Linked DNA regions of Homo sapiens: region 2 is linked to region 1. A link means that fine-mapping ties the variant in region 1 to the expression of a gene that starts in the linked region. Tissue or cell type: prefrontal cortex. Region 1 holds a variant in brackets; the other region holds the start of a gene. All regions are shown on one strand. Distances are between the middles of the regions.

What was found. PIP is the estimated chance that this variant, and not a neighbour inherited with it, causes the effect.
Region 2: it holds the start of PISD, and the variant in region 1 is fine-mapped to the expression of PISD in prefrontal cortex (BrainSeq, PIP 0.95).

What each region holds. Positions count from the first base shown.
Region 1 is chr22:31,702,433-31,705,190 of GRCh38, reverse strand. PRR14L (proline rich 14 like) reads left to right here. Exons shown (of 9, transcript NM_173566.3): 5 at 465-536; 6 at 1,470-1,641. Among named protein-coding and RNA genes, the nearest start is that of PISD, 42 kb to the right of the region's middle. The variant T/AT (reference allele first, on the strand shown) is at 1,394.
Region 2 is chr22:31,660,536-31,663,293 of GRCh38, reverse strand. PISD (phosphatidylserine decarboxylase) reads left to right here and starts at 1,079. Exons shown (of 8, transcript NM_001326411.2): 1 at 1,079-1,150. The coding sequence starts at 1,086. RefSeq lists enhancers at 1,039-1,338, 1,579-1,628, 846-2,045, 2,019-2,158, 1,454-2,347 and 1 more.

The DNA of each region.
Region 1 (2,758 bases):
CTTCCGGGCTCAAGCAGTCTTCTCACCCCAGCCTCTTGAGTAGCTGAGACCACAGGTGCACTCCACCACCCCTGGCTAAATTTTTGTATTTTTTGTGGAAACAAGGTCTCGCCATGTTGCCCAAGCTGGTCTTGAACTCCTAGGCTGAAGCGATCTGCCCACCTCAGCCTCCCAAAGTGCTGGGATTATAGGCATCAGCCACCTTGCCCAGCCACTGTTCTTTCTTTCTGTCTCTGCCTTCTTTCCATTCAAGTTAGAAAATAATCTTCCTGTCAGTCTGCCTCCATTCCAGTGATGGGCACATAAATATAACTCTCCTGGTTGGAAAGCTTTCCTCTTTCTGAGTAACTGACATTTCTTGTCTTCTTGGGGCTATCATGTGCTAATACCCACAATAACATCAAAACCTTTCCTGTTATCCCACTGCCCTTACCTATTGCTTTTGTACTTTTGCTTTACTTTAGCCACACCATGTTACCATATGTGCCTCTTCCAGGCATGGAAGCTACATATAACACCAGCGGCAGTCAGACGAGGTAAGCACATGAGACTCAGCGTGTGTGTGCGCGTGTGCGTGTGTGTGTGCAAGAGAGAGAGTGCATACATAGGTGGTGTGGATCGTCTGTGGCATGACTTTGACCTCTTGTCCTTGTAAACCTGATCTATGTCTCTCAGATAAACATTTCTGAGATTGAAATCTGTTCTATTACAAGCAGCAACTAGGAATGTGTAATAATACAATTTGTTAAAAAAAAAAAAGTGAAAATCACTAACCAGCTTATTGTACCAGAAGTCCCCTCTCAAGCTATTTCATGTCTTAACAGCCAACTTCAGTCCCTGGACAGGATTGATCTTATCTGAGTACTGTTCATTTGTGCGGTTTACCAGATATCTTCCTCACCCAAAAAGTCTGTTCCTTTTTACATTTTTCCTTATAAAATTCCATAGCAATAAAATGGATTACACATTCTTGTAATTTTTTTACATATGTAGATACAGGCTATGTCTGGAAGTGACTAGAATGCAGGTTGACTGGATATATTATTCTCTGGAAAGAAAGAAAAAGTATTGAGGCCTAGATGTTAAGAAGTTGAGGCTGGGCGTGGTGGCTCACACCTGTAATCCCAGCACTTTGGGAGGCCGGTGCGGGTGGATCACCTAAGGTCGGGAGATCAAGACCATCCTGACCAACATGGAGAAACTCCGTCTCTACTAAAAATACAGAATTAGCTGGGCGTGGTGGCGCATGCCTGTAATTTCAGCTACTCGAGGGGCTGAGGCAGGAGAATTGCTTGAACCCGGGAGGCAGAGGCTGCATTGAGCCGAGATCGTACCATTGCACTCCAGTCTGGGCAACAAGAGCAAAACTCCTTCTCAAAAAAAAAAAAAAAAA[T/AT]GAAGAAGAAGAAGTTGAATGTGCTGGAAGTAGAAAGGGAACCCCTCTCATATCTTCTTTCTCTTCATGGTGCTAGGCTGGAGCCTCCATTCCCTGCCTTGGTACCAAAGTCTTGCTTGGTAGCAGAATCAGCTGTCAGCAAGCTCCTGCTTTCAGCCTCTGAGTTCCAGGTTCGTGGATTGGATGAGCTGGATGGTGTGAAAGCAGCATGCCCCTGCCCACAGAGCAGCCCCCCAGAACAGAAAGAGGTAAGTGTAAAGTGCTGGTTGGGTCAGATGATGGTGGCATTGGAGGTGGCCATTGTCAACTCACATCGCATTATAGCTACAGACTGGCTTCTGAGTATCTTTACGTACCACCTTCAGTGTCAGCCGAGTTCTGGAGAGTACTAAGCCAGGAGTTTTTCTCTTGGCCAGTAAAGGACACAGTGGATTTTTTAATCTGCATTGTTTTCCAGATACTTTTTTCTTGCCAACAGCATGTAACAGTGTTTAGAGAATTGGACGAAAGAGCTGCTTTGTGCATTCAAAGAAGATGAGTGGATGGTGATGATGTTCAATTTTGCAACGTCTGTTGTCTTCAACAGTTGCAAACTTTCATGTTGACAGTCTCAATATCTGAACTGAATGTACAATTCTTGTTTTGATGATATGAAGGGAGTAGTTGCTTAAAACACAGCAGGGGCCAGGCACGGTGGCACACGCCTGTAATCTCAGCACTTTGGGAGGCTGAGGCGGGCGGATCGCTTGAGTCCAGGAGTTCAATAGCAGCCTGGGCAACCTGGCAAAACTGTGTCTCTACAAAAAAGACAAAAATGAGCTGACTGTGGTGGTGCACACCTGCAGTCCCAGTTACTCGGGAGGCTGAGGAGGGAGAATTGCTTGAGCCCGGGAGGCAGAGTTTGCAGCAATGACCCCAGATTGCATCACTGCACTCCAGCCTGAGTGACAGAGTGAAACCCCATCTTAAAAAAAAAATAAAAGGCCGGGCACGGTGGCTCACGCCTGTGATTCCAGCACTTTGGGAGGCCAGGGCGGGCGGATCACCCGGGGTCAGGAGTTCGAGACCAGCCTGGCCAGTATGGTGAAACCCCATCTCTACTAAAAATACAAAAATTAGCCAAATGTGGTGGCACATTCCTGTAATCCCAGGTACTCTGGAGGCCGAGGCAGTAGATTCGCTTAAACCCAGGAGGTGGAAGTTGCAGTGAGCCTGGATTGCACCACCACACTCCAGCCTGGGCGGCAGAGTGAGACTCCATCTCAAAAAATAAATAAGGCCAGATGCGGTGGCTCACATCTGTAATCCTAGCACTTTGGGTGGCCGAGGTGGGCGGATCACCTGAGGTTGGGAGTTTGAGACCAG
Region 2 (2,758 bases), 42 kb after region 1:
GGTGGCTCACGCTTGTAATCCCAGCATTTTGAGAAGCCGAGGCGGGCGGATCACGAGGTCAGGAGATCGAGACCATCCTGGCTAACATGGTGAAACCCCGTCTCTACGAAAAATATATATAAAAAAATTAGCCGGGCGTTGTGGCGGGCGCCTGTAGTCCCAGCTACTCGGGAGGCTGAGGCAGGAGAATGGCGTCAACCCGGGAGGCGGAGCTTGCAGTGAATCGAGATCGCGCCACTGCACTCCAGCCTGGGCGACAATGAGAGACTCTGTCTCAAAAAAAAAAAAAAAAGAAGAAGATGTTTAGGACATGGTTTTTGGAGTCAGAGACGTATGTTCAAATTCTGGCTTCACTATTTTATAGTCTTTGGGCATATGCCCTTTATGTACCCTTGAAGATGTTGCTTAACCTTCCTGAGCCTCAGGTACCTCATCTTTAAAATGGGGATAATGTCTCGGGCCTAGCTGCGAGTCTCTAGTCAGTGCTCAGTAAAAAGTAGCAGACATGATTGAAAACTCGTTTTCCTCTTACAATTGAAGATAGGAACCTTTTCAAGAGCAAGCACCAGGCACCGAATTTAACGACTGGTTGCATTTCTAGGTGATCCAAGACCGTTTGCCCCCGGTCTCCCTGGCAGCACAGCGGTAGGAGATAAGAATGATATGACACCATGCTTGCAAAGTGCTCACAACACACTCCGGCGCTTAAAAAACGAGAGCTGAGTCATGGATGCCCAGTTTCCCCATCCGTAAAATGAGCAAGTTCGATCACTTGAAACGACATTCTTGGATCTTGGATGACTCAGATTTTCCAGGTACATGAGGAAAGGCACCCAGAGGGAAGGAGGAGGAGTGGCAGTGCTGCGACCAAGCCCAGGTTTAGCGAAACCTACAGCTCCACTAGTTCCCCTACCTCCGCAGGTGCCAAGCGGGTTAGGTGGGGAGTAGCCACAGGGCGGAGCTTAGTCGGCTCCGCCCCCAACCCGCGCTTTTCTCATTGGCCCACTGAACTCGAGACTCGTGACGCCTTAAGCGTGCGCCCAGCGTGTGAAGGGGGCGTGGCACGCTGAGAAGGAGCAGACAAGATGGCGACGTCCGTGGGGCACCGATGTCTGGGATTACTGCACGGGGTCGCGCCGTGGCGGAGCAGGTATAGCAGCGCGGAGAGACTACCTTGGGGCGTGGGGCAACCTGGACCAAGCTGGGGTCTGAAGAGAGATGTTTCTGTGTCGCGGGCTCGCTCTGAGGCGAGCTCGGGTGGAGACGGAGCCACCTTCACCTCGAGCTTAGGAGCAGGTGCGACTGCTCCTGCGTAGGGCGGTCCGGATTTACTTAGGGTGTGGCCTAGAAGCTCGCGCTTTGCCCTTTCCAGCTAGGTGGAAGTTCACGAGGGACAAAAATCAGATGAAATAGGCTACCTGCCCGTCTCTTGAGTCGAGGCAGGGCTTTCAGATGTTCAGATGCCATTTTCTCGTGTGTTCGTTTTCGTAGAAGGAATGATGTCCTGTGGGAAGGACACTAGATTGAGTGTCAGGCAACTTTCATTTCTGGATCTTAGTCTTTGAAGCTAGAGGGTTAGGTTAGGTAATCTCAAAACAATATGTTATGGGGCTAGAGTCTTGGTTACCCTTGTGACCCCCAGCTGTTAGATTCTTAGAAATGTGGGAGACTTGAGGGGTCTTCTGAGTCCAGCTGTCTCTCTTTGGAGTTAATGAGATTGAGGCTCCGAGAGAGGGAGGGATTTGCTCAAGTTCACCTAGCCAGTTTGTAGCAGAGCCCGGACCCCCATCAAGGTACCCCCTCACGCGACGATCTTTCTCTCAGGCTGCCCGCCGTGAGGGCAGTGGTTATACAGAAAATAGCTTAGAGCATTTGGAGTGTCGGAAAATGGATTAAAATGTAGCTGTGATTCAGAGTCGGCTGCCTGGTGTCATTTCAAAGAGCTAAGATTTGAGAGATGCGCCATACTTGTGTGTTTCCTACAGGGTTCATTTTGTCAGCGTTGATCAGAGGATAACCTATTGTTTTGGGAGGAGACGGACACTGGATTTGGACTGAGAGGGAACAGAAACCATCATTGGTCTTGTTATGAAAGCGTCACTCTTTCATCATTAACTGTACAGAAATGATTATCTCTCAGGAGAGGGCTCTGCATTGTGGTGGTAACTGTTAGAATTTGGGCAGGAGACTTTGTTTTCAATGTTATTACCAGGCGTGCTGTGTATGAGTCAACCCTGAATTCATTTAAAGTGTGTCACAGGCTGGGCGCGGTGGCTCACGCCTGTAACCTCAGCACTTTGGTAGGCCAAGGTGGGTGGATCACTTGAGGTCAGGAGTTCGAGACCAGCCTGGCCAATGTGGTGAAACCCTGTCTCTACTAAAAAATACAAAAATTAGCCGGGCATGGTGGCAGGCACCTGTAATCCCAGCTACTTGGGAGGCTGAGGCAGGAGAATTGCTTGAACCTGGGAGGCGGAGGTTGCAATAAGCCAAGACTGCGCCGCTGGAGTCCAGCCTGGGCGACAGAGTGAGACTCTGTCTCAAAAAAATTAAAAATAAATAAAGTGTGTCACGAATTGAAAGGACTAAAATGAGACTCTTAAAAAATTGTTTTTTGTTGTTGTTATTTGTTTTGGAAGTCAGAGCCTCACTCTGTTGCCCAAGAGGGAGTGCAGTGGTGTGATGATGGCTCACTGCAGCCTCCACCTCCTGGTCTCAAGCAGTTCTTCCACCTCAGCCTCCTGAGTAGCTAGGACCA